Homo sapiens: one gene and its partners. The protein of the gene in region 3 interacts with the protein of the main gene of each other region in a pairwise test. Each region holds a gene or a part of one and is shown on either strand. Other genes may lie near its edges. The genes, in order: AIG1, PHF24, THBD and SLC19A3.

Region 1 (7,471 bases), on a different chromosome or scaffold from region 3:
GGCAATTTGAAAAAGCTGTAATAAGCATCAATTGTAAGGAAAAAAAAGAGTAATTTTTACCTACTTCTTTCTCTTAATCTTTCCCAACTGCCCTCCAGGGTAAAAGAACTCTGTCACCTCAGTTCATATAAACAAACATGAACAACACACAGTAGGTTCTAGAAGTGTAGTTTCTTAATTGGTTTTGAGTTCCATATAATCCTAAAAAGTAGCTTTCTCAATTCAAAATACAGACATTACTGTGTATTTAGTGGTGAAAACTTTAAAAGAACATAAATATCCAAAAAGAAAAAAAGTTTAAGCAAAATATATGTCCATATGATGTTGTGCTATGCAATCATTAAACATGAGTTTTACAATGTTTTAAATAGGAGAAAATTGCTATTAAACTTGAGGCAGAAGAAATCTCTGTGATGCAAGTTGTTATATAGTATGTCACAATCAGCTAACTCTATATTGTAAAAGACTTGCAGGAATATGCTAAAATGTTCATTGTTTTCTCTGGGTGGAGAGAGTGGGGAAAATGTTTTTTTAAAAGTAGCGTTTCCATTTTAGTATCATAAATACGCTACATTTATAATGAATAAAAATAATTCAGAGGTATCTTTTCTGTAATACTGAAGACTTTTTCCATGCCCAGGCCTCTGAGGGGGACATGTCCTAACTTTCACCCTTGAAGTACAGATAAATGGGGAGAAAAAATTTGTTCCAAATATATTGATATTGTTAGAAAATGCTTATCTCATGTAAATGCAGAACCAAAGGAAATGTGTAAATATCGAATACTGCAAGGATATGTATAAACACAATTCTTCCTCCTGAACTTTTAAGCAACGACCAATAGTTACATAAAGTTGGCTTCTTGGAATACAATTTAAGGGTGACATAGGAGTCCCAGTCATTTCCCAAATTAACAGGTATTATCATCAGTATGTCAGACAGACATCCTCCCTGATACGGTTTGGCTGTGTCCCCACCCAAATTTCATCTTGAATTGTAGCTCCCTTAATCTCCACGCATTGTAGGGGGGGAACTGGTGGGAGGTAATTGAATCATGGGGGCAGGTTTTCCTGTGCTGTTCTTGTGATAGTGAATAAGTCTCAGGAGATCTGATGGTTTTATAAAGGGCAGTTTCCTGCACACACTCTTTTGCCTGCCACCACGTAAGATGTGACTTTGCTCTTCCTTTATCTTCTGCCATGAGGGTGAAGCCTCCCCAGCCATGTGGAACTGTGAGTCCATTAAGACTCTTTTTCTCTATGAATTATCCAATCACAGGTATTTCTTCATAGCAGTATGAAAATGGACTAATACACCCCCCCTCCAAAAGAAAAAAAAGGAATGAACAGTCTGTCTCAATTATTAGAAGTACTTAAGAAAGGGTATCTTCAGCCCCATATATAGTCTAAGAAATATTACAACAATCAAAGAATATAGCTTGAAGCTAAAACGGGTTCTTGAAATCTTCCCTTGGTGTTTCTTATGTTTACTGCTATTGATGAAATTCAACTGGATGAGGCTTTTCTCCTCCAGTCTCACTAACTGTGTAGTAGAATGAAAAAGATAAAAAAAAAGACATGCAAATATTTCTTCTATACATAGAAAACAGTATTATCTAAATCAAATATGGAATCATCATAAGAATACTTAGAAGTGAATAATGTATTATAGTTCATAAAAAGTAATAACTTACCTAATGAAGTTTTAAAAGCAATTGTTTACGCTGTAAAAACACAATGTGTGTAGATTAATATTTTCCACAAAAGTTATCTGTAAAACATGACTAAGATTGTTAGATATGGTCTGAAAAGCACAGAAAGCAAGCCTGGACATGTTAATAGTTATCAAGAAGTTCCAAAAATTGTGAACTGACATTCTCATAAAATAGTATTTGAGTCAAGTTTTATACAAACGCTTCATTTTTTTAAAGCACAAAACTATCTGATCATGGTTGGCAAATCATGAAAAAACAAAAGCAAACCCAGCAGAATAGGTTCTAAATACTTAATTAAGAGTTATAGTTATTTATTTAAAAGAAACTGGTCGGGCGCAGTGACTCACACCTGTAATCCCAGCACTTTGGGAGGCCGAGGCAGGTGGATCATTTGAAGTCAGGAGTTCAAGACCAACCTGGCCAACATGGTGAAACCCCATCTCTACTAAAGATACAAAAAAAATTAGCCAGGTGTGGTGGCATGCGCCTGTAGTCCCAGCTACTTGGGAGGCTGAGGCAGGAGAATAGTTGAACCCAGGAGGCAGAGGTTGCAGTGAGCTGAGATCATGCCACTGCACTTCCGCCTGGGTGACAGAGCTAGACTCTGTCTCACAAAAAAACAAAAAGAAAAACAAAACAAAAAACCTGACCATTAAAAATGGCTTTATGAAAATATTATTTCATTTTGTAACAATGGGGTTGGGGAGTCTTAATAATTGTCTAACATGTAAAGTAGGAAGGGTATATCAAACTTTGCAAATATCACATTAACTCATAAAACTTTATTAAGGCTCTATTGAGAGGTGAGGCCAGCTGGACCTCCTGAGACAAGTGGGGACTTGGGGAACTTGCCTGTCTTACAAGAGGAGTGTAAAATGCACCAATCAGCGCTCTGTAAAAAGCACCAATCAGCACTCTGTAAAACACACTAATCAGCACTCTGTAAAACGCACCAATCAGCAAGATTTTAAAAGTAGCCAATCGCAGGGAGGACTGAAAAAAGGGCACTCTCATAGGACAGAAACAGAACACTGGAGAGGACAATAAGGGAATAAAAGCTGGCCACCCCAGCCAGCAGCAGCAACCCGCTCCAGTCCCCTTTCATGCTGTGGAAGCTTTGTCCTTTCACTCTTCACAATAAACCTTGCTATCGCTCACTCTGGGTCTGTGCCATCTTTAAGAGCTGTAACACTTACCACCAAGGTCTGCCGCTTCATTCTTGAAGTCACTGAGACCACTAATCTACCGGCAGGAACCAATTCCAGACACATTATTAAGGTAGGTAGATCTTCAATAGATCTACTCTTTTTTATTTTTATTTTTTTGGCAGTTTATAACCATGTACCAAGGATGCACAATTAAAAAAATAAAGCCAACTTTTACATTAAGATTTAACCAAAAATCATCAATAATACATCGTTTTAATGCTAGTAGAATCTTCTTCTGACATCAGTTCTATTAGCATAATTATAATGCCAATTAAAAAAATCTAGTGGGTCTCTTCATTTTAGTTTAGAGCTTGATTGGAAACATTCAGGAAAACATCCATGGCTTGCTTGCTACTTTCTCTTTACCTCTAGCACTATGCTTCTCCCCACCAGCCCTCCCTCCACATCCTCTGACTCAGAGACTATTTGAAGAGGACACCTGTTTTAAATGGATCCACAGGAAATACCTATGTTGCCTTTTCATAATCCGAACCTGCAACTGGTTGGCTGAAATGAAAATGTTGCCCACAGACTGATGCAACTTCAGTGTGACAACATTTACTGGAAGGCAGGAGGGACTCCAGTTTATATTTATTTTCCTTCCATTAAGCCCTGGTAGTGTAGTGTAAGAAAAAAGTAAGGGCAAAACCAGTTTAACAACCAGATGATTAGTATTAAATTACACGCAGGGGTTTTACATCCAAAATTGGAATTTTTTAAAGCTGAATGCAATCTTGTGGCAGAAAGTTATTTGAAAATCCTTTCTTTATAGCTTTTTATCTATAAACCTCTTGTCCAAAGTTCATATTCTAGCTGATGTTATATACTGATATGACATTATTCAATCTGTCATGGAAAAGTGCTGCGTAGCCTACCCATTGAAAGCAGAATTGAGAGAGTTTCCTAGTGATTGACAGTCGTTTGTCAACACTGAAAACCTTATTGCCCCAAAATACTGAAAGTCACTCGCGGCTGCCTGTGCTCGGGTTTACACCCCACGTTCACACCCCCACCGGATCCCTCCGCACGGGGCACCAGCTCTCGGCCAACTGCAACTACCCCAGGAAGCGTCACCGCGATTCCGGGGCGGGAACATTTGTGGACACTGGGGTCCACTCCTTCAGTCTAGGTTCCCCGCCCCCTCGCCCGGCCCGGCGCCCACTAGCCACAGGGCCCGCTTCCCCCTGGAGATCAGCGCGCACTTCCCGAGCCCTCGTAGCACTCAGAGGTCGCATCCACACCTGGGATGCCTAGGGGGCGCCTCCTGGCCGGGTGTCCCGGGACCCTGCGAACGCAGGAGCAGAATGACGAAGGTGACGAAAGAGATGACGACACGCCGCCTGCCAGGCCGCGGCCGGCAGTGGAGAGCGTCCGCAAACCGCGCCCGGCCAGTACAGGTCACCCGGGCGCTCGCGGCCGCGCCAGTCCCCGGGGGCGCGCGCCCCGCCCCCGCCCCCGCCCCCGCCCCGCCCCGCCCCGCGCCCGCGCCCGCGCCCGGGTTCCCACGGCGCCCGCCCCCGCGCGCCCGGCGCCTCCCTCACGCCCGCCCTCCTTGCCGCCCAGCCGGTCCAGGCCTCTGGCGAACATGGCGCTTGTCCCCTGCCAGGTGCTGCGGATGGCAATCCTGCTGTCTTACTGCTCTATCCTGTGTAACTACAAGGCCATCGAAATGCCCTCACACCAGACCTACGGAGGGAGCTGGAAATTCCTGACGTTCATTGATCTGGTAAGGCCGTCCCCTCCCCCTGCTCGCCCCGCACCCCGTGCCTGTGTGTGCGTGTGTGTGTGTGTGTGTGTGTGTGTGTGTGGATGCGCGAGCACCTGCGCACGTGCGCGCCTCCAGCATCCACCCGTGTCCTCGCCTCTTCCCCAGTGATTGCGTGTGAAGGCCTGGCTGCCCCCGCAGCGGCACCTTCTGAACCACTCACCGTTACCTGGTAGCTGGGTACCCTTACCTGGCAACTGGGGGACAAATGGAGGTGGGGCGCAGCCAGGTGGTGGGCTCTTTGGAGGGGGACACCGAACTGCTTCTAAGAGGTGACACGGGAAGAATCTTCAACAAAAGCATCGGACCTGATCCTGAATGGCCTGAGACCCATTCGCCCTCAAGGTGCTTTTCAGAGCACCCACCGTGGGATGAACTTGTTGCAACTGAAGGAAACTGGGTATTGTCTAGTGATTTGGAACTTCACCTGAAAGAACCAAATCCTTCTCATAAGGGAGAGAAAGCACCTAATAAAGTTGTCTTCTTTGCATCTGTTTTTTTCCCCCATTGTCAATAATTTACTTTCAACCTTTACCCCGTACATATTAGGAGACAGAGATGTTCAAAGTGCATTTCCAAGGTGACTGTACACACTTCTCTGTCTTCCCATGTACAAATTTACAGTAGTTTGCATAAGCAGCTCCTCTGTTGGCACAATATGATAATCTTGACAGGTGCAGGTTATTATTAGTATATCATTTTGAAAGTTTTTCTATTTCTGGCACTAAAAGGCCCTCTTCAACCTCCCTGGAGAACAGAACATGGGCATAAGGCCCAATAATGAACTCATGGATGGACCTAGGAATTTCAGGGTAAAGGTGACTAAGACACACGCTAAAAGATTATTAGGAAGAGGCTTAAAACAAAAGCAATGAAGTTCTAAAGCACTCAGAGAAATTGTAGAACCAATTCCTGGGACTCCCTGAACTGTTTATCCAAGACTATACAGTTGGTTGGCTACACCAGCAAGATTATAATCTCTTGTTGACCCTCCATTCTGATGAAGAGAACATGATACCTGTTTTAAAAATTTCCAAAGGCTTAGGATGCCTCAAAGAAATGCAGAGAGGCTTTTGGTTTAAAAATAACACCTTATATTTGCATTATATTAGATACTTTCAGAGTGGAATTTCAATTCTGTTGCCCAGCAGTCTCCAAACTGTGCACATACCCTTAGGCCCACAAGACTTCACAGGGTATAGAATGTTGCAAGGGTTTTAATTTTCAGATCCTCATCTTCCAACTCTGCTTGAAACTAATTTCCCTCTGAACATGCGTGATGCCTGCCAGTTCTCCTTTCATTCTCCCCATTCATCCAAGTGAGGAGCCCGTGACAAGACTCTGAGGTGTGCTTTTCTGTCTGTTCCTTTTAGCTTCCAGAAGATAGATGGTTGTCACCAGGGCTATCTTTATATTTGATTGAACAACAATGTCGGAGTTGCCTTGACAGAAAGTCTTATTGGGTTGATTGGCTTGTCAATGAGGATTGGCTTTGCCAATTATGTTGTGTAGCAGACATTTTCTGTATACTGAATGAGCTAAATCTGCAACCCTGAGGTTCTGATGCATATGTATATGAAGCAAGCATACCACCCATAGAGCGCCAGAAAGATGTCCCTTTTTCAAGTGTTTACACTTAACTATGTTAAGGATGTTGAGATGTTATTTAAAAATATGTGCATAGATTTTCAGAATTCTTTGAGGGGCTATGTGAGCAAAACTCCTTTTGGGACACTGCCTTATCCCATTCCTAAGTCAGATCTTACTTAGAGCTGGCCTATTTGAATGTTGCTAAAGAGCAGTGCTGGGCAAGAATACAGAGATGCTGTGGGAGCCATAGGTTCTAGAAACAGCCCTCAGCATCACTCTTGCAGTAGATGCTGTGTTGTGGGAGCAAGGCAGGGGTCAGCAGGTGAACAGAGGTAGAAATTGAGGGTGTTGGTTAACCCAAGAGATGCCTGCTTTTCATAATTAGCATTGCTTACTGTGCATTGAAAAACAAGGCTCAGAAGAAATGATATACCTCTCATAACCTTTGTGTGACATGAAACCATAGTAGAGTCAGCTTGATATGCTGTCATATAATTTATCTTTTAGCATTCAATGATTGGACTTGCCTGTTTTAAATACTAATCACCATACAGGACTTTTTCTATCCCAGAAGTCAGACAGTAGATTCAAATGTGAAACATTTACTTTGCTTCATATTTAGCTTCAGATTGTATAGGACCTTTAGCCAGCGTTGTAATTTTTTACTCTGTGGCTCCTGATTGAAACATAATAATTATCTTTAACAAAGAGTGCCTGTGAGAAAGTATGTCTGAGATATATTCATAAAAACATTCATGCAAAGTGTTATTCTTTTTATTATTTGAGATTTAGAATCCTTAGAGCTTAAGCATTGTACAGCTGTTAAAACAACCAACCTGTCAATCCTCAGTAATGGCATGAAATGATTAGGCTACTATAATTTAGCCATTTTACTTTTCACTTTTAATGTTAAAAAGACCGTAAACTTTATTACCTAGTGCCTTGTACAATATTAATGAGTCTAAGTTTATTGGAGTAATTTTGCAAGAGTTTAACTTTTTAAAATTGTAATGTGAAGGCCCTTTTTTCTAGCCAACTTGGATTGCAGGAATCATTTATCCTGATAGCCACAGTTGGATTCCATATTCCATGGCTTCAGTTTACCAGGATCTGAGTCAGGAATCTCAGGCTCTATGCATCCAGGAGCAGATGATTATGTGGCAGTGGCCATTCTGGCTGTATTCATTTCTCTCC
Region 2 (7,025 bases), on a different chromosome or scaffold from region 3:
TGTGATTAAGAAATCTTTTTTTCATTAGCTGGAAACAAATATTAAGCAATAGGGAAATAAATTACGTACCACGAAAGACTAAACAACACGGAAAACACTGAGGTAGAAGTATATTTATTGGTGGGAAAGATACTCAAAATATGCAAACATATTAACAAAAATAGCAAGTTACAAAAATGCTCATGTTATGATCTAATTTTTGTACTGTATGTACTTTTAATCTTTTTGTAATCTATATTTTCCAATTCTCCCACATTGCACATTAATTAGATAATAAAACAAATCCTAGGGTTGGCAACTTGATGACTTGTTTTTGTTTTGGGTCCCCTGTTCTATGATTCAGAACCTGTTGCTGGTTGCTTTGGGCTTTAGTTCTCTGTCTGTTAATGAGTGTATTTGGAACATATAGTCTGAAGCATTTAGAATGCTCATGTTGTTTTTCATCTTCTTTTAAAAGTTCATATGATCTAATGAGGGAATCTAGCCAGGGTGGGGTGGGGATGGAGAGAAGAGTATGTATATGTTAAATTTTTTGCTGAGGCTTTGGACCCAGTGGGTTCTTGAAGTGACAGGGCTGGCCCTGTAGTCCCCAGATGCTGCTCAAATGCCTCATGGGCAACAGCGTGTTCGATGGCTGGGTGGGATGCAACTCCCCAACTTACAGTGACAGAGGTACCCCAAGAGAGAAAATACAAAACTGACAGATAATTCTTCATATTTTTATTTGAGCATATTTTTATTATGAGCAATTACATTTTCCAGACCACTAGGTTTTCCTCAGAAACCCCAAGGCATGTTTCTCAAAACTTTCAACTGTGGCTCAGAGTAAGAAATATATTTTTTGTGATAACCCTGTAGACACATGTGTTTATAGATCTGCAACTGAAGTCAAAATTTTGTGGAACAATCATACTTTTACTACATGTGATGCTCCCTGATATTTTCTATCCTATTTCATTAAAACAACCCTGATAGTGACTCTCTGAAATGATTTCATGACCTACTAATGGATTTAAATCTGCAATTTGAAGAACGCACCTCTAAAAGACAAGGATATAAGGAAAGTGCTGCCCTTAACTGATGTGGTGAAAGATGAACAGTTTATTCAAGCTTCTCTTAGGAGTCTGTGTGGTTGGAAGATCCACCAGAGATGGACAGCTACTAATATACCTCTGACTAAAGAAAACCTATTGTATCCAAGAGGCTGATGCTCTTTCACCTGTGGGTATATGTAAAAAAAAAAAATTTAGCTAGGCATAGTGGCACATGCCTGTAATCCCAGCTACGTGGGCAGCTGAGGTGGGAGAACTGCTTGAGCCCAGGAATTCAAAACCAGCCTGGCCAACATAGCAATACCTCATCACATTAAAAAAAAATGATTGATTGGAGCATTCTTTTTACAGTGATTAAAAAGATGGAAAGAAATTGGGCATGGTGATTTGCTCCTATAATCCCAGCTACTCGGGAGGCTGAAGCATGAGGATTGCTTGAGACCAGGAGTTTGGGTCTGTAGTGTGCCATGACTGTGCCTGTGAATAGCCACTACACTGAAACCTGGGCAACACAGTGAGACCCTGTCTCTTAAAAAAGAAAAAAGGTGGAAACAACCTCAATAGGGAAATTACTGAATAACTTGTGATATATTCATGCTATTAAAAAAGAGAAAAAATGATTTAATTATTTATTTTGAGATGGGGCGAGGGGGGGGGTCTCGCCATATTACCCAGGCTAGTCTCGAACTCCTGCACTCAAGCAATCCTCTCACATAGCTGGGACTACAGGTCATGATTGATAATTTTTGAAAAATTTCAAGCAATCCTCTCACATAGCTGGGGCTACAGGTCGTGCTAATTTTTGAAAAATTTTTAAAGAGACAGGGTCTTGGTATGTTGCCCAGACTTGTTGATAACTCTGGGGCTCATGTGATTCCCTGCCTCAGCCTCCCAAGTAGCTAGGATTATAGGTTCCAGCCAGAGTGCCCAGCTTGATTTAATTTTTTAAACACAACAACCAGAGCAATGATTCTCAAGTGGTGAATTGGCTGGATCCTGTGGCAGGTGGGAGGTGTATATCAGAAACTCCGGGAGGAGGGGAGAAATAAGTGAGTTTCAAGAGCTTATCAATTATGTATTTATATTTGGAAAACAAGTATTAAAAACCATCTCTGCTTTTTTTGTGTGTGTGACATAGACTACAAAACAGTGAGTTTGACAGTATCTTCTTTGTTCTTAGGGCTATACGGAAGGTACTAACTCTCCAAATAGTTGGAGGCAGCCTCCTCCCAGGAGTTATATCACAAGTTTTAGGGAACAGTCAAGAGACTTTTATGTTTATCAGAAGGTCTGATAAACACTGGAAAAAAATAGTTGAGAAACACTTATTTGGAGATCTGGAAAAAAAATACTAAATTCACATTTTCAAGAACGATTCATTAGAGGAAAACCAATGGTATGCCTTTGTTTTTGGCTTTTTCAGATGCTTTAATAAAAGTTATTGAACAAAGACCAGCCAGTTAGGAAGTTACTCTATAAATGAACTTACTCATTAACAGAGAATCATCAAATTAATCACAGACACCTCCCAACACACTGTAGATCCGCTACAACCCATTATTAACTGTAAGGATACCATTATTCTTTATAAGGATACCAAGAATAGCTATGAAGCTATCTCCATGGTCAACTATGTCATTGCAATGGTTTTGGGAGTTTATCCTTAAAGCAATTTCTATGAAGACTGAAGCTGACATCTACTAGCAAAACAAACATAAAAACAAACGCTTTCCAGTCCTAAGCACAGGCTCTTGGAGCACTGCTATTCCTTTTAGCTGAGATGGTTCAATCTTGTAGACCATTTTATGCCTGTAAGGGCAGAAATGCAAAGTAGAACTATTCACAGTAAACCATCAAAATCCAAACAAGACCATCAAGTCATTTTGAATTGACATGACTTTGACTTTGACAGTAAACTGTGAAGACACAACAGAATTCAGCTTTAAAAGCGAGTCTAAAACTCTTAATACTTAATGGAGAGGATCAAAACTGTATACAAAAGACACTTTGATTAAAAGTGTGTGTGCTGAAATATCCAAAAAGTGCACCTGGGATGTTTGAGAACTTAACAAAATCAGCTCAAATTTTTAGAGAAACAAGTGGTAGTGATTGGTGCCAGGTAAAAACAAATGCTTGTGGATAAAAACCTGGCCTCTCCTGTGCTGGAATAAGTCCTAGGAAAAAGAGAGAGTTAAAAGGAAATCAAGTTGCAAAGATCCCACAAATTATACCTAATGATTACTTCTTTCGCTGGTGGGTGGGACTGGGGGTTTCTGCCTCCCTAAAAATGACGAAAAGAGGCCAAAAAGATATTGTCCCAAGAATTATGTGGCTGTCAGGGAATTTGTGGTATCTAGGGAAGGCCTGGAAAAAAACTCAGGGGAGAGGAGCAGGTGATGGTATATAACAGCGGGACAAGAAGGTGGAATAGGGCCGTCTGACTTCATGAACTGGAAGAAATGAAAACAGCAACAAGTAGAATCTGTCTTGGGTAAGAGAAGCATGTCTAGATGTGTTTGTCAGGCAGTAAGACATTTGTGGGCAGCTTGTAATGTTTGCAAGACACACCCATTTTCTGCAGAGCACCTGCTTAGAATTCAGCGGGATTATTAATAAGGGCAAAGTGGTGGGAGTAAGAGGAGGAGGGGCTGCTCTGGAGCAGGAGCTGATAGAGAAATAAGGAAGGGGAAGGAAGCTGGGGAGCCTCTATTTCCCAGCACTCTGTATAAAGATTCAGAGCTGTGGAGAGCCTGAAGGGCAACACTCCTAATAGGCAGGAGTTTCCTCATGCAGCCTGTTAAATGTAAAGTACATTTACTGATTTTCTCTTCTTAAAATTTATGTTTTCAGATGGAGGGTGGTTCTAGGGTCTCACTATGTTACCCAGGCTGGCCTCAAACTCCTGGGCTCAAGTGATTCTCCTGCCTCAGCCTCCCGAGTAGCTGGTTCAATCTGATTCTTGGTATGGGGATGGAGGCTATTTAAAAGGCTCACAAGCAAGTAAAAGTGGCTGCCTGGAGGTTAGGGCTTCCCTAGGAAGGAACAAGGCAAAGAAAACCTCTGAGTGAGGGGAAAGGGAAAGACAACCAAAGAGAATAGGTTGAGCAAGTGGAGTAAAGGAATCTGTGTTTCACTGAGATCAGGAGGGAGAAAAGTAGAGATGGTTCTTACTGACTTCCACAGAGCATGTGAATTAAAGTGTCTTTTGTATACAGGTTTGATCATCTCCATTAAGCATTAAGGGTTTTAGCCTCTTAAATCTTTGTTGAATGAATGATGCAGAGATGACTGGGCAACATAAACAATTTATTTAAGATCATAGTGTCTTTTCTCTTTATCAAATTGGCCAGAGACTAATGAGACCAAATCTCCAAAACTCAATTCTAGAAACTATGCAGTCACCAGCTCACATCATCACATCTACTCTACTTCCCAAGAGGTGGCACCTGGACAGTGAGTCAGGGCTAGCAGGGATGAGAACACGAGGATGATTTCTCTCTGACTACAGAGGAGAGTTAAGAAATTCTGCAATTTAGCCGGTTTCTACAATCACAATGGTAAGAAAAGAGAAGCCAGTATTACCAAAGTCAACAGTCCCCTGCATTTATGCTGTGTCCTGTGGACTATGGTGAGGCCCACAGGAGGGCAGTTGCCTTAAGGACACAAGTAGAAAGTGTGAAAATGCACTTCCTTTGTCCTGGGTTTGAAATTTAGCACGAGCAGTATCTGCACATACAAGTGAAAAATTTCAAGGTGGTCAACAATTGGCTCCTGGAAGCATGTGCCCAAAGGGCTGAGAGCCTTAGGAAAAGCCATATGCCTAACACAGAAGGTGACCAGCTGCAAGAGTGTGGAAAATCAACACAACCAGGGTCTGTAAAAAAACAAAACAAACGCTGAATGCATAGCACAGACTCTGAGCTTACTGTGAACATCAGCATCAACCTCAAGATTTTAAGCAAAAAAAAAAAAAAAAAAACCATCAAAAAGAGTTCTCGTGCGGGTCTTTGAGGAAATCCAAGCCCCGAGGGGTCCGATTGTTCTCCAGTGACTGGCTGTTGCTTTAGGAAATTCCAGTGCCTCACTACAGTGCTCTTGGAGCCTGTTCCTACTCAGACATTTTGTCACCTGGCAGTAGCCTAGAAACTAATTTTAGTATTCATGTTTGTAGACCCTGAAAGGTCTACCTGGTACCTCCCCACCTCTCTTCATTCAGCCTGTTTATTCAGGATGAGACAGTCACAACTACATGGGGCTTTTCTGGGGTTTCCAAGGAACAGAAAGGCTAGACAGAAAAACTGTCTTTCTGGCCTCAGCTCAAGACTACAAGGCATCCTGCTGCTGTTTAATATTTACTGAAAGCTCACAAAGTTCTAATATAGATGAGAGCAAAATTATGGCATGAGCTTAGCCTCTTAGGGCCTGAGTCTTCATTAAAAGCCACAGTGCTGACTTCCCACAGAGGCAGAGCAACAGTTAAGGAACATCACACCATCAGTGATTGGCTGGTGAGACTGCACTTAGCAAGCAGAGCTTTTCAGCAAGATGGAGAGGCACTCCCTGTTTTCTGCTCTGGTTCCCTGAAACACAGATTCAGCCCCATGTAATGCAATTATTACACCTTAATTATCACCATTTACTTCTCTGTTGATTCTGCAAACTTTCGCCGAGTACAGCCTACTATGCGTCAGGCACAAATCAGGTGCTTAATAACTGATGGTAGAATGAACAAATGGAAGCTCATTCAGCCTGTGAGAATGCAGTGAGTATGTGCGTGTGCAGGGGGCATAAGTGTAGGATTGAAAAAAAAAAGGTGTTGCTTGAGCTAAATTTTGAATATGAGTAGGAGTTACATCAGTGGATAAGGAAAAAAAAAAAAAGCATTCCAGGAAGAGGTAACAGCACATGCCAAGGCATGGAGCTATATGGGGACTCCATCATGACTTAGATGGTATGAAGCCAGCCTGGGGGCTAGATAGAAATAGGCAAGGAAACGTGTCTTCACATAAGAATTAGCATCAGCCCAAAGAACTGGTTTGAGATAGTATGCTTAAAATATTTGTTAGAATATGTATTTGAGTTTCAAGGAGGAAGAAAATCCCAGAGAATTGGATTTGCTGAGGCCAGGAAGAGGGACTGCCCTGATAAGTTCCAGCGCTGACCAGTGAGTGCATTGTTTGGCCTTAGGACCCAACAGGAAACTCCTTCGCAACCTAAGAGCTCGTAGGTGGTGACTGTAGTGAATCACTGGGGCTTTCCCTCTGGGAGACTCCTAAGCCTCAAAAAAACAAACATACAAAAAGAGAGAGAGCCAATTAGCCCACACAGCTCTGCTTCAGTGAGAGGACCCCAGTAAGATGAAGCATTTCTCAAAACCAAACAGCCAACATATATCTAAAAGGGCTTCATAAACTGTAACATGCTATCTAAATAAAAGGTTCTGTCATTACTATCATAAGGAAGGCAAAAATGTGGTCAGTTTACACTCAGAGTATATGGGCAAAAGTAATTTTGGCAGGGCACTGGCAGGAGGGCTGAATGTGGCTGCCAGAGGAGGCATAGCACAGCAGCTGAGTTTCAGTGATGCTTGGGAAAAGGCATACTCTATATTGGTTCCTGTGGATATTCTGTAATGCCATAATTTCCCCCTTACTTTTCCTACTCTTTATAGTGAATGATTAGAGAAATGCAGACTGATTCTATGTGAACTCCTCAAGGGCAAGAAACTCTCATATTTATCTAGCATAGTGCCTGGCAAGTAAGTAGCACTTAGTAAATGTAAGTGAGTCTCTGAGGGGATTGCTGGAAGAGTGGGGAGAATGGAGGGGGATGTGCTAATGGAAAAAATAATCATGTCTTCAGCTGGACACTGATGGTCTTGGTTTCTTGGTCCAAAGCTGGCAAGCAATTCCTGTCAGAATTTGGTCATTAAGATTGAGGGGTGGAGTGGATAATGATATTCCCATCAGAAAT
Region 3 (7,093 bases):
TTGGTCTACCAGTGACAAGGAACAGTGACAGTCAATTGCTAATTGGCATGAATCATGCAGTTTGAAGCTTTCTTGAACTGTCTCCTGGGAGGTGTTTGTCTCTTCTCTCAATCTAGAGCAACCTTCTGAACATTTTCAACACTGTCAAAAATAAGTAATAATAACAAAAAAGGAAATTGCATAAGAAGATTAGCAACAATTACCATTTTTCAGTACAAATCAAAACAGCAACAAAATTCAGGCTCACTGTTTAAAAGTAAAGATAAATACCTCTTTGGGTGTAATTTCTATGACAGTCCAGCAACATCAATTTAATACCTTTTACATCTCAACCTTTGTTTAAAATTATTTTGCTCTGGGAATCTGAAATTTCAGGATAAATTAGCAAATCTGGTGAAAAAGCAAATGGCCATTTTTATTTTTAGTGTTTTTGTTTCTGTTTCATGTAGGGGTTCTGTCTGAGCAGACAGCTAAGAGCAAAAGAAGTAGGGTCAGGCACAGGTAGGGTGACTCAGGTGAGTTGGCCCAGTTCCTGGGAGGAGAAAACTAGGAAGAATGGGGAATAAGTGGGGCTTGCTTCATAAATGTGAGAGGGCTAGGAAAAAAAAATTCACCAAGATAGTTTACCTGTCACATGACAAGTGGGAGTTTGTAGAGAGAGAGAGACCGGAGAGCTGTGCAAAGTGGATACTGGAGACATACAGGTAAGAACAAAGGAAACAAACAAAAACCTAAATACTTAAAAAAAATAAATATTTTAGTCATCCCTAGCCCACGAGGTCAAGGTCTGCCCAGAAGGCTGCCGACCAATAACGCTCACCCTCCTGCGCCCGGTAGTGAGGACCTGGGACAAATCGCAGTCTGTGTCTTCGTTACAAAATTGCCATCATTGCCCAGTGGTCCAGTGACGTCACGGAAGAGGCCGAGGCTCATTCTCCTCCCTCTAATCACCCCCTCGCCAGTTAGCCATGGAATAGAAGAAAACAGCTTGGGGGGTGCGGGGAGGGTCTTCTCCAGCTGTAATGCCAGCTAAGGTGCTTTGGTAGCAAAGCTGGGGGTGAGGAGGCACAGGCTCCTGGACGGAGCCAGGCTCCTGGACGGAGGCCGCTCAGAGTCTCTGCGGCGTCCGCTCGGTCCGCACGTGCTGCAGCACTACCTCCTTGGAAGGGGCCGCGCACTTGTACTCCATCTTGGCCCTGGCGGCGCCCTGCTTCTTGCGCAGGTGGCAGAGGAGCGCCAAAAGCGCCACCACCAGGCACAGGCTCGCGATGGAGATGCCTATGAGCAAGCCCGAATGCACGAGCCCCACGGCCGGAGGAGTCAAGGTGGAGCCGGGCGTCGGGCTGGGCGGGGGCTCGCCAGAGCCGCTGTCGCCACCGTCCACCTTGCCGGAGTCACAGTCGGTGCCAATGTGGCGGGCAAGGGCCGAGTCGGGCCCGCAGATGCACTCGAAGGTACCGGGGAGGTTGTGGCACACCCCGGAGCAGAAGCCGCCGTTTTCGCACTCGTCGATGTCCGTGCAGATGAAACCGTCGTCCAGGATGTAGCCTTCAGGGCACTCACAGCTAGCCTGGGTGTTGGGGTCGCAGTCGGCTGGACAGGCAGTCTGGTTGCAAAACATCTGGCACCTGTGCGGCTCGTGGGGAATGGGCGCGAAGCCCTCGGCGCAGACGCAGAGGTAGCTAGTTTGGTTCAGGGGCTGGCACTGGTACTCGCAGTTGGCTCTGAAGCACGGGTCCACGGGCTCCACACACTCGCCGTCCACCAGGTCGTAGTTAGGGTAGCAGTGGCACTCGAAGCCACCCTGTGTGTTGACACAGCGCTGCGGACACGGACTGGGCTCCAGTATGCAGTCATCCACGTCCTCGCACCGGTGTTGGTCGGCCGCCAGCCGGTAGCCGGTCTCGCACATGCACGAGTAGGAGCCCGGCTGGTCGGGGTTGGGAACGCAGAAGTGCTCGCAGAGGTCGTTGCAGGACTGCGTCGCGGATGCGGTGCAGGAGCGCCCGTCTGCCTGCAGGGCGGCGCCGGCTGGGCACTGGCAGCGGGGAGCCCCAGGGATCGCATTGCACGCGTGCTCGCAGCCGCCGTTCTCCACGCTGCAGTCCCAAGCGCCCGGCGCCTCCCTGGCCCAGTGCCCCTGGACCGCTCCGGGCGGCGCGGTGCACATTAGCTGTAAGCCGAGGGGAGCCACCGCGGCGGAGCTGCCCACCGGCAGCGCCTGGAAGTCCGCTCCGCGGGCCGCGAACGGGGTGCCGTAGGTGATCGAGACGGCGGCAGCCGCGGCGCCGGGCTCCACAGCCAGTGGCCTGCAGGTGGCTGGGAAGTGGAACTCGCAGAGGAAGCCATCGGCCTTCACTTCGCACTGCTGCTCCTCCCAGATCGGCTCGCTGGGCACAGTGGCCTCAGCAGCGGAGACAGCGACGCACAACGGGCCGCAGAGGGGAGCCCCATTGAGGTCGAGCCGTGCCCACCTGCTATAGCTGGTGTTGTTGTCTCCCGTAACCCACTGGAAGCCGCGCAGGGGCCCGAGGCGCTTGGGGTCGCCGCAGCCGGGTGGCAGCTGCAGGCCGATCCAGAGGCGCCGGCGGCCAACGCCGCCGTCGCCGTTCAGTAGCAAGGAAATGACATCGGCAGCCACCGAGGAGCGCACTGTCATTAGGTGGCCCCGCAGTCCGTCGCAGATCTGACTGGCATTGAGGAAGGTCGCGGGGCCCGGGTAGAGCGCGAAGCAGTCGTGCTCGACGCACTGGCTGCCACCCGGCTGCGGCTCTGCGGGTGCGGGGAACCCCAGGCCGGCCAGGGCCAGCGCGCCAAGGACCAGGACCCCAAGCATGTTACCCAGGCGCGCCGCGTGCAGGCGCCGGGGAAAGCGCGGGCACTGCGACAGGGCCGTGCCGGAGCAGAGGGGCACAGGACGCCGATGGCGACAGCCTCTCCTGTCCGTCCCAGCCCAGACACTTCTTGCCGCTGCGCGCAGCCCCTGCGAGGCAGCCTCTGACATGCGGATCGGCCAGGGCTCGAGTTTATAAGTGCCCGGCCCTCCCTCCCTGGACGTTCGGGAAAAGGAAGGAAGTGCCTGGTGGGAAGGGCTGATGCCGCATACTCGGATTGCTGGGTTCTCTGGCCGCCCTTGCGCCCGCCCTCGCGCATGGGATCACCTCGCCGGGATGAGTAAACCCTGCCCTGGCGCAGGGAGGTTCTCGGGCGGGGCCGACAGGGGCAGGCGCCAGGGAAGGCCAGCACCCCTGTAACAAGACGACTGTCCCCGCCCACCACTCGGGCCCCCACGCGTGCAGCCCTCTTTCATCTCTTGGTCCTCCTTTCTTTCTTTTCATACATGTTACAGCCACTTCCAAGGAAAGCCTGGATTGCAAGAGCTCTGGGAACCGGAGACTTCAGAGAAGAGGGCTTTGAATGGGGAGTGGGGGAGGTGGTGCACAGGACCTGCAAGACGCTGGGAGGGGTGATCGGCACCAAGGGCACTTTGGGAGGACCTGCCTAGGACGTGGACTTCCCCGAAGACAGGATCGCAAGGAGAGACAGCTGGATCCTGTCCGCGGCCAAGGTGCCTGGCTCAGGAAACCAGCGGAGCGCGCTTGGCCTCACAGGACAGTGGGTGTGGCTGGGGTGACGGGGCAGGGTGGGGAAGACTGGCCTAACACCAGCGCCCTCTGCCCCATGGCTGGCCAGGGACCCGCGAGTCCCTGGACACGCACTGGCCAACGCCAGACCCCATCTCATCGGGTGGGGAAGTCGCGGGGACACTGTCAGGGCGCCGAAGTCCGGACCCGGCTCAGAGGCGGTGGCAGGTGAATTGCTGCGGCGCCGGGTAGGGGCGGGCGCGTGGGAGCGAGTCAGCCTGGCCAGTTTCGGCCCAGCTTCCGAAGGATGGTGCTTCTTGCACCCCAACAGAGTGGCTGGCAACCCCCCAGGGGAGCGCGCAGGATCCCAGCTGATCCCACCCGGGTCGGCTAAGGAGGTTTCCATTTCGTCCAGAGTCCGAATTGATACCCACGTGCATAGAAACGCCACTTGCTCGGCAAAGGGCACTGAAGAGCCACCGTCCTGTGGATGGGCAGGGTGGGGGGGGGGCTGGAGGAGGACATGGGAATCCGTCACTTTCGACCTCTTCCGGTGGTTCACTTACCGGGAATGCGGAAGAGTGGGTCTCCCCCTCGGGTCGCCCCCATAATGGTGAGAGGCAAACTGTTTAAAAACACCCTTGCCTCTCTCCTCTACTGTCCTCACAACGAGCGCCAGGGGGCGGCGCTGTCGAGCTCTAAACAAAGCCAAGGAAGTTGGAGAAGTTTCGGGCTAAAAAGGGTTAAGGTGTAGGAGCACAGAGTCCTCCTTCTGGGGTTGGAAGCTCCGTTCCCGGGCAGCTCAGCGTGGATTCCGCTGCGTTCACCTCTTGCCTCCAGGGCCCAGTAGATCCTGGGCTTTAAACAAGAACAGAGAGTATGGCGTCTGCCACGTGCGACAGACACGCACCGGTGGGGTGGGCCGGGCTGGACTGGACTGACCTGCAGTGACCAAACGGGTGGGGCGTGGACACTCTGAAAGTGAAAAAGGCAAGCACGACTGTCCCGCCGCACACTCCCCAGCGCCTTGGGGCAGAGAGCCTCCAAACGTCCCGCTGAGTTGAGCTCTTCGCTGGGAAGGCCGCCCCAGCACCCAGGAAACGAAGGAGCTGCTGGACACGGGGGTCTGAAGCTCCCGGAATGCACACAGCTGCGCCTCCCCTGACGCGGACCCCCTGGGAAGAGGAAGGGAAGAGCGGCAGATAGCACAGTAGGGCTTGTCCGGCGGGAGCAGTCAAGCTGTGGCTGCCTAGGCTGAATCAGGGGGTCGTGACTCCGGTGCACAGCCTGCCTACGCGGGACGCAAAAGCAGGGCTGCCTGCGGTGCCGCCATGGGGGTGAGGGTGGAGCTTCAGATAAGGGCAGGAACCTCGTTGGGGCACTGCTGAAAGGTCTCAGAATGTGGGGACAATTCCCAGAGTGAATGAGACAAGAGAGGGGGACAGGATCGGTTACAGAATCAGAAACCAGTGCAAAGTGAAAATGTGGGGTCCATTGTTCAATTACAAGGATTCAAGACTGTGATAGCAAAGTGTTAAACAAGGAATGAGGCCCTGGGGGGGTGATGAGAGGGCCCTTCTGAACCTGCCAGCCCTAAAAGCCACTGAGGGACATTCAAGGATCAGATCTCACCCCACACCAGGCTGGCTGAGTTCTTGGATGGATTCTAGCTGATTCACCAACACAATGTTTCACTGGACGTCCTACACAGGTCCACTTGCACCCATTGCTGATTCTTGCAAAGAAAAAAAAAGTGTGAGAACAGCCCCAATAGCTGAGTCCACTAAGAACTCAGTGATGTCTGTGAAACTTGGATCAACCCTATATGAGGAGGTGCAGATGTTGGATGTTTCTGTATTAGAAAGAAACTAGAGCAACAACAGATAGAAGCAGAGCATTGTCCCATGGGGGGTACCACAGTGTCTGGGTTGCCCTACACAAGGATGGGTGGACATGACCCACTTGGCTTTCCCACCTGTAAGGGCTTTACCCCTGACCCTCAGGATACCTTTGCCTTGTGGGGCCTGCCCTCAGCCGCTTTGTTTTTCCTCTCCAGCCAATACCTTGGAGGCTTTGCATATTTTAGACTACCTTCTGGTGACTGAAGGTCCCCTGTCTGTGTTCTTGCCCCATCCCTATCTTCCTATCTGTGCCCCCTGCACACCAGGGTGGGCCACTCCTTCCTATCCCTTTGCAGATAACACATCCACTTCCCAATGCTTGGCCCAGTTCCTGGCCCAGCACCCTCACTCTGGCCCACCAGCAGACTTGCTTTACTCCTGAAACAGCTCCCTTGAAGAACACCCATCTGGTCCTAAATACTGTTGCCAAAATCTTGTTTTCAGCCATCCTTCTAGAAGCCTTGGTGCCATTTGCACTTGTGACCCTTCACCATTCTCAAGGCTCCTCCTCCAATTACTTTTGAGACACATGTTTTCCTCCCTTCCTCTCCTGTGAGCCTTGGGGAGGCCCCTGGGATCCTCTTGTACCACCCACTAGAGTGGCCATTCTCAAGGTTTTGCTGGTGGTCTTCATCATCTCTTTACAACCCACCTTTTGGTGAACTTACCCATTCCCCTGGCAGTGATAGCAGTGTCCAAGGAGATTGGGGAGGGAGTATTCTAGAAGGGACCCTTACCCCATCTTTCCCAGTATCAATAGTTGGTCCACTGAGGTTTTAAACCATGCACTTGCCTTTGACTTTCTGCTCTCCTTCATCCACTGCCTAGTTTTTGTGTCTTGTTTCCCCTGATCACTGCTCCTGCCTTCTCAATTTATGCTGAGACAGTTGGGTCCCCAGCTCTTTTCCTTGCTGCTTATCTCTCCAGCTCTCCACCGTGGCTGAGGCTACTCTGATCCTCATACTCCCTCAGTGCTGCTCCCACCCGCTGGGAGAGCCCATACTCTTTCCCCTCCGCACTGAAGATGCTCGCGATAGTGCCTCTACTCTGTGGCCACAGATGAGAAAATTTGCACTCAAGGGGCTATGCTGGAATTTGGACCCAGAGCCTGCACCCCTTGCACCTCACAAGGCTTCAAGGACCAGTGTTCTGCTGGTCTCCATGAATGAGGAAACATCCTGGCAAGGGAGGCTCCTGCTCACTGTCAGAGAAGCACCTTGTCCGCTCATCTCCACCCTGTAGTTCATGTCTCTCCCTCTGCTAGCAACATTCTCGTCTGCCAGGCTCTTCACCCACTGAAATCTTTCCATTCTTTCAAGTCCCAGTTCAAGCTTCCCCATCAGCAAGTTTTCTGAATAACCCAACCAGAACTGATCTGTCTGTGATTCCCATAGACAGGTCGTTCTCTCAGCTCTTTAGTACTCACCACTCCCTCCCTGCCCTGTACCTAATCATGCATATACCACACTTTTTGCTGCACTTATACTCCAGATTCCCACACATTTTTGTATCCCCTTACACCTAACAGCACGCTTTGTAACTAGACAGTGCCCAGAGCTTATTGGAGCACCTGTGGTAGATGTTTCTTTGTCCTCTCCAGGGTGATTT
Region 4 (7,231 bases), on a different chromosome or scaffold from region 3:
GAAATACCCACAGGTGTGGAGAGGCTGGCCCCCTTCAATCTACCAGCCTGGCTAAACACATTATGGGAGGAGGAAGAAGAGGAATTCTGCTGAAGGACAATAAAGGATCAGGTACTGAGATTAATTTGTAAGTAGTTCTCTTTGACTGTGAGAGGGTCTATTCAAGTGTGGTTACATTCTTACTCTTACAAGGAGGGGAAGGAAAAACCATAGTTCCCCTTGGTGGGTCTAGATCTTAGGCAGACAGAAGACTTCAGCTTCTTCAGAAGAGACCTTGTCGGGGAGATCAGACAGACCCTTAGGCTTCTGCAGTTCGGTATCTCAAGGCACTGTATTTTGTGTTATCGGTTTATGAGCTCCAACATCTGCAACTGATTTATGATTGGGAGTGTTGGATGGTCCCAGTACGGCAGGTCACAGCTTCTCTCCAACTCTCTATGTGTTTTTTACTCATTCACTCAGCAAATATGTGGCTGCTCTATTAGGCCAGTTATCCAGCCAAGATAGAAATCTAAAGATAAGGCCAGGTGCGGTGGCTCACACCTATAATCCCAGCACTTTGGGAGATCGAGGCGGGCAGATCACCTGAGGTCAGGAGTTTGAGACTAGCCTGACTAACATGGTGAAACCCTGTCTCTACTAAAAATACAAAAATTAGCTGGCCGTAGTGGCAGGTGCGTGTAATCCCAGCTACTCGGGAGGCTGAGGCAGGAGAATCCCCTGAACCCAGGAGGCAGAGGTTGCAGTGAGCCAAGATCGACCCATTACACTACAGCCTGGGCAACACAGTGAGACTCCATCTCAAAAAAAAAAAAAAAAAAAAACTAAACAAATATTTGCCTTCAAAGAGTTAACATTTAAGAGTGAAACAGATAAATTAGCCTACTTGCAGTAATCCTAATGTGAGATTTTCTTTGCCTGGCCACCTTTTCTCCACTCCTATATCAACTATTCAAATAGACTTTTTTTTTTTTTTTTTTTTTTTTTTGAGACAGAGTCTCACTCTGTCACCCAGGCTGGAGTGCAGTGGCGTGATCTCGGCTCACTGCAACCTCCACCTCCTGGGTTCAAGCGATTCTTCTGCCTCAGCCTCCCAAGTAGCTGGGATTACAGGGGTGTGCCGCCACGCCTGGCTAATTTTTGCATTTTTCGTAGAGATGGGGTTTCGCCATGTTGGCCAGGCTAGTCTCGAACTCCTGACCTCAGGTGATCTACTCACCTGGGATTACAGGCGTGAGCTACCATGCCTGGCCTTGTATAGGTTTTCATGGACATAATTGCAGCCACATTTTTTAGTAACAGTGCAAGAGGAAGTATAATAGGGAGGTACACAGTGTTGAGCAACTCCCTAATACACTATGGCTCCCTCTCCTACTGTTCTCATTCAGCCTCCCTGTAGGTTCTTTCCCAAGTTGGAGCTCCAAGCCTCAGGCTTAGTCATCTTCTCCATCCTCTTCTCAGTGGGATCCACGGCACTTACCACTTTCTAACACACTATAAAATTCACTAACTCATCATGTTTACTATTTATGTTCCCTCTATATACCCCATCCCAAGCTAGAATGTAAATTACAAGGCAGAGATTTTTAGCTTTGTTCACGAATGTATCCCAAGCACCTAGGACAGTGTCTGGCACATAGTTACTCAATAAATAACTTCTTAATGAACAAATGATTTTTTTTTCTTTTTTGTGTATGGGTTTATTTGAGACAGGGTCTGGCTCTGTCACTCAGGCTGGAGTGCAATGGTGTGATCTCAGCTCATTGCAACCTCCACCTCTTTAGGCTCAAGCCAATCTCCCACTTCAGCCTCCCAAGTAGCTGGGACTACAGACGCATGCTACCACGTCTGGGTAATTTTTGTATTTTTGTAGAGACAGGGTCTCACTGTGTTGCCCAGGCTGGTCTTGAACTCCTGGGCTCAAGCGATGCACCCACCTCGGCTCCCCAAAGTGCTATATTACAGGCATTAGCCACTGTGCCCAGTCAGAATAAATGATTTTAAAACAATTTTGTATTATGGAAAATAAACATATACAAAAATGGAAAATAGTGCAATCAGTTTCTAAGAACTACTGCCCAAGTCAACAATAATCAACACACAGCCAATCTTTTGTCATCTATGACCCCATCCACAGCCTTCTCCCCACACAGTCGTATGGGATCAAACTCAAATGTCATGTCATGTAATCTGCAAATGTGTCATTTATGTTTCTATGCATGAATGAATGAATTCCTCAATATCTCTCTCTGATTTAGACTGTGGCTATGAGATATTAGAGAATCAGAGTAAACTTCTCAAGGTCCAATTTGAACTCATTTTCTTCAAGAGGTGTGAAGGAAATCATGACACCTTCAGCCTTTAAGAAAATTTCACAATATTCTTTGGGAGGACCCAGCAATTTGCAAGGTTGCACAATGAGCAGGGCACTCCTACACCTAAGGTTCAGCTCAGGACTTTTCACAAATCATAGGAAGATGAAAATAGAAAACGCAGAGTCGTAGGACAGAGAACCAAGACACCTCGGGGTGTTTTAATCCATTTCACTTCCACTGGTAGCCCTTAGAAGCCACGCAGTGTTTATCTTTAGGGAGGGTTTTTCAAGTCCACCAAGAGATGAACAGAAATAAAAATATTTTTTCCATTTTAACCAATAAGAACCTTGTAATGCTTTAAAAAAATTCTCTGTTTAATAAGAAGTTTCACTTTAATATATAAACTCTTTGCAGGCTAAGCGTAGTGGCTCATGCCTGTAATCCCAACACTTTGGGCGGGCAAGGCAGGAGGATCCTTTGAGCCCAGGAGTTCAAGACCAGCCTGGGCAAGATAGTGAGACTCTGTCTCTACCAAAAAAAAAAAACAAAAAAATTAATGTGACGTGGTGGCACCCACCTGCAAGCCCAGCTACTTGGGAGGCTGAGGCAGGAGGATCAGTGTGCCTGGGAGATTGAGGTTGCAGTGAGCTGGGGTTGCACCACTGCACTCCAGCCTGGGAGATAAAGTGAGACTTTGTCAAAAAAAAAAAAAAAAGAAAGAAAGAAAGAGAAAAGAAAAGAAAAGAGGCCAGGTGGCCGGGTGCTGTGGCTCACACCTGTAATCCTAGCACTTTGGGAGGCCGAGGCGGGTGGATCACCTGAGGTCAGGAGTTTGAGACCAGCCTGGACAACATGGTGAAACCCCATCTCTACTAAAAATACAAAAATTAGCTGGGTGTGGTGACGGGCGCCTGTAATCCCAGCTACTAGGGAGGCTGAGGCAGAAGAATTGCTGGAACCCGGGAGGTGGAGGTTGCAGTGAGCCAAGATCGTGCCATTGCACTCCAGCCCGGGGCCAACAACAGCGAGGCTCCATCTCAAAAAAAAAAAGAAAGAAAGAAAGAAAGAAAAAAGACCAGGCGCGGTGGCTCACGCCTGTAATCTCAGCACTTTGAGAGGCCGAGGCAGGCGGATCACGAGGCCAGGAGTTCGAGATGAGCCTGGCCAATATGGTGAAACCAAACCCCGTCTCTACTAAAAACACAAAAATTAACTGGGCGTTAATTTTTGGAGGCTGAGGCAGGAGAATCGCTTGAACCCGGGAGGCGGAGGGTTGTAGTGAGCCGAGATCGCGCCACTGCACTCCATCCTGGGCGACAGAGGGAGACTCTGTCTCAAAAAAAAAAAAAAGAAAGAAAGAAAAGAGAAAAGAAAAGAAAAAGAAGAAGAAAAGAAAAAATTGTTTGTATCAGATTTTCAAAGTGCCAGGAAACCATCCCACTCTACCTCCTTTAAAAAAAAAAAGTGCAGAGTGATTATAACCACTGGCTCTGGAGCCAGGAGCCCCAACTAAAACCCAGGCTTCTCTATTTACTAGGCCTACTTCCTTCCGCCTCACTTTCTTCATGTGTAGAGTGGGGGTGACAGCCAGCCAGCCCTCTCTCCTAAGCTTTTGGAGAGAAATAAATGGATTCATAAGAAAGGACATATTTGTAAATAAAGCAAACGATCGCTGTTGGATTCAGGCCCTCTTGCTTCATTATGCTGAATGTCAGTGTATTACTTAAGTTGTTCCTTTCAGCAGAGTTGACTGTTTCTGCCCAGAAAACCGGCCCTGGGCCAGGAAAATCTGGGCTTCCACACTGGGATGAAAGGTCTGGACGCCCGGATTCGCATATGCAAAGCGTGGGGGCGTGGCCCCGGGCTCCGGGCCAGGCAGGCTCCGCCCCCTTCCCACCAAGAGCGCCTGGATCCATCCGACAGCCGCGGGTGCGTGGTCGTGCGGCAAGTGAGCGATTTGGTGAACAGACACTCCCTTCTGTAGGTAAGAATATCTCGGGGGGCGAATTAATTGAAGAAGCACCGTCATCCCTCGGTCTTAGCAGTGTCGCCTCTCTCTTCCCGGGTTTGGAGAGCTGGGGGCGGGTTCCTGGCTCTGCGGGCCTGGGCTACACTCTGAGCCGCGTGAGGAGCTCTCCCCCTACGCCGCAGCCCGCGTGCTGGGATTCACCCAAGTGGGTTTGTCTGGAATTCCCATTTGCAGCCTTCTGGAAGCGCAGATTAAATAAAATCATGATTCCCGTAAAGTGCCAGCACCTCCTATGGTTACATCCCACGTTCACAGATTTTAACTGAAAAGGCATTTTAGCATAGAATTCCAAATTCCAATCCAAGGATGGAGAAAAGGTCCTTCCTAGTGGGAAAAAGGAAGGTGAGTTTGAATTTAAGAGAGCAGGGGCTTTTTTGGGAACCACTTGAAATTTAGTTAATTGAAACTAAAAGAAAACGCAACTACACCTTACAAAAACACTGCTGGAAAGGATACCTAAGTCATCAAATAATAAATAGTGTGACAGCTGTTTACCAAATCAATGTCGCTGCCGCAAATGTGCAAAAGGTTGGGACTTTCGGAGTGCTTCAAGTTTGAAAAAGGTAAAGGAATAATGTTTTCTAAAAGTACTCTCAGGCCAGGCGCAGTGGCTCACGCCTGTAATCCCAGCACTTTGGGAGGCTGAGCGGGGCGGATTGCTTGAGGTCAGGAATTCGAGACCAGCTTGGCCCTGGGATGAAACCCCGTCTCTACTAAAAAGGCAAAAATTAGCCGGGCATGGTGGCGGGTGCCTGTAATCCCAGCTACACTGGAGGCTGAGGCTGAAGAATGGCTTGAACTTGGGAGGCGAAGGTTGCAGTGAGCCAAGATTGCACCACTGCACTCCAGCCTGGGCGACCCAGCAAGATTCTGCCTCAAAAAAAAAAAAAAAAAAAAAAAAAAAGCACTCTCATGTGTTTTGCTCCTATCAATATTGAAACATTGGTGTCTCCTGTGGCAAAAGGTGTTTTTTTCATCGAGGCACATATATTAAATAGACCAAAACATAACTTCCCAAATATCTTATAAGATTATCCTAGTAGTAGCTGAAATGGACAAAAATACCAATTTCCTTCAGTCATTATTGCTAATAGACCAACAACACTCTTTTAAGGTTGTGTAATGGTAAATGCATACACATTTATTTAACATGCACACAGGGAGAATCAGAGTGATTGATTACCCACCCTGCAACATGTCTCAGAAGCTTATAGACTACCCTGGCAAATGAGGTTACGGGAGGGAGCCGAAGAGCATCCAGCAGAAGTGGATGGGCTTCTGCTAGGGAGCATGAATGGGTCAGGGGAGAGAATAAGCTACATTATCTTGTGAATGGGTCTGTTCAGGTGTGGGGTATATTCTTGGTCTTACAGGGAAGGGAAAAGAAACAGTTGTTCCTTTTGGTGGGTCTGGATCTTAGGCAGACAAAGGTTTTTTTGAGCTGGGAGCCGGGAAGGTCAGAGAGACCTTGAGGTCTCCAGCATGTCAAAGCCCCATATTTTGGGGTATCGGCTTCTGAGTCCCGGCACTTATTAGTGACGAAACTGATGAGTCTGTAGTAGCCAGATCAAAGAAGAACCCAAAGAATGGGTACATTCGTAGATCAGGAATATTGAATAATGAAATATAGATCAGGAATATTGAAACTGGTTTTCCATGGGGGAAAGGAAGACTGTTGTCCTTCATGGGATAAACCTTATTTGCATGTCTATAGACAATAATTACTTAACATTGCCATCAGTTGTTAAAATTTACAGAGTTGTAAAATAGCTCAAATGACCTCTAATTTTTCTTTAATCCAGTTTTTTCCCTACAACACCACCTTCTCTCAGTGCATTTAATCAGAAACTTTCACTGCATCTCAAGGATTAGATGTCAGCTGACTTTCCTTTTTTGTTTTGTTTTGTTTGGGGTTTTTGAAATTTTTTTTTTTTTTTTTTTTTTTTGAGACGGAGTCTCGCTCTTGTTGCCCAGGCTGGAGTGCAGTGGCTGGGATCTCGGCTCACCGCAGCCTTGACTTTCCCTGTTCAAGCAATCTTCCCACTTCAGTCTCCCAACTACCTGGCACTATAGGCACACACCACCATGCCTAGCTAATTTTTGTATTTTTTATAGAGGTGAGGTCTCGCTATTTTGCCCAGGCTGGGCTCAGTTGACTTTCTAAGCCGTTTTATGTTTTTCTTAGTTTTATGGTTTTCTTAGGCATATTCCTCCTGCTCTCCCTAAGACTAGATTGATCTGAACATAGACATAACAGAATAAACAGAATTTGGAAGGAAATGATTAATTTACCAGCAAACACCTCATGCAAATTAAAAGGAATGGTACCATATATGATAAAATAAAATCTGAAGCATCTTAAAGATCACTTGGGCTGGGTGCGGTGGCTCACACCTGTAATCCCAGCACTTTGGGAGGCCAAGGCAGGCGGATTTCTTGAGGCCAGGAGTTCAAGAGTAGCCTGGCCAACATGGCAAAGCCCCATCTTTACTAAAAATAAAATTTTAAAAATATCACTTGTTTCTGCTCTTACAAAAACAAACAACAGAACTATTCTGGCCCACATACTGAATATCTGGGTCTAGTTTACGTCTTTGGAAGTTGTGTGGCATGCTTTATTTCAGCAAAGATTTTTTTTTGGGGGGGGTGTGGGGTTTGACATAAAGGATTATAGATGGGTGATAAGGCTACTTTGTAGTTTTTTGAGAGTCTAGGTCACTTAGCACAAAATTCTATAGAAGCTAAATTAGGTGACTTTAGTAAGAATAGTCAGGGCAAGGCCAGGCACGGCGGCTCACACCTGTAATCCCAGCACTTTGAGTGGCTGAGGCGGGTGGAGCACTTGAGGTCAGGAGTTCAAAACCAGCCTGACCAACAAGGCAAAACC

What was found.
Region 1: the proteins of THBD (region 3) and AIG1 interact in binary tests that used the Homo sapiens proteins (3 or more experiments, as listed by UniProt).
Region 2: the proteins of THBD (region 3) and PHF24 interact in binary tests that used the Homo sapiens proteins (3 or more experiments, as listed by UniProt).
Region 4: the proteins of THBD (region 3) and SLC19A3 interact in binary tests that used the Homo sapiens proteins (3 or more experiments, as listed by UniProt).

Annotation. Positions count from the first base shown.
Region 1 is NC_000006.12:143,056,419-143,063,889, forward strand, and holds the start of AIG1 (androgen-induced gene 1 protein), read left to right. Parts: upstream 1-4,470; 5' UTR 4,471-4,507; coding exon 4,508-4,648; intron 4,649-4,795; coding exon of another isoform or gene 4,796-4,798; exon of another isoform or gene 4,799-5,177; intron 5,178-7,471. UniProt on the Homo sapiens protein: Hydrolyzes bioactive fatty-acid esters of hydroxy-fatty acids (FAHFAs), but not other major classes of lipids. Show a preference for FAHFAs with branching distal from the carboxylate head group of the lipids.
Region 2 is NC_000009.12:34,961,265-34,968,289, reverse strand, and holds part of PHF24 (PHD finger protein 24), read right to left. Parts: intron 1-7,025.
Region 3 is NC_000020.11:23,046,669-23,053,761, forward strand, and holds the start of THBD (thrombomodulin precursor), read right to left. Parts: upstream 3,005-7,093; 5' UTR 2,837-3,004; coding exon 1,109-2,836; 3' UTR 1-1,108. UniProt on the Homo sapiens protein: Endothelial cell receptor that plays a critical role in regulating several physiological processes including hemostasis, coagulation, fibrinolysis, inflammation, and angiogenesis.
Region 4 is NC_000002.12:227,715,011-227,722,241, reverse strand, and holds the start of SLC19A3 (thiamine transporter 2), read left to right. Parts: upstream 1-4,213; 5' UTR 4,214-4,299; intron 4,300-7,231. UniProt on the Homo sapiens protein: Mediates high affinity thiamine uptake, probably via a proton anti-port mechanism. Has no folate transport activity. Mediates H(+)-dependent pyridoxine transport.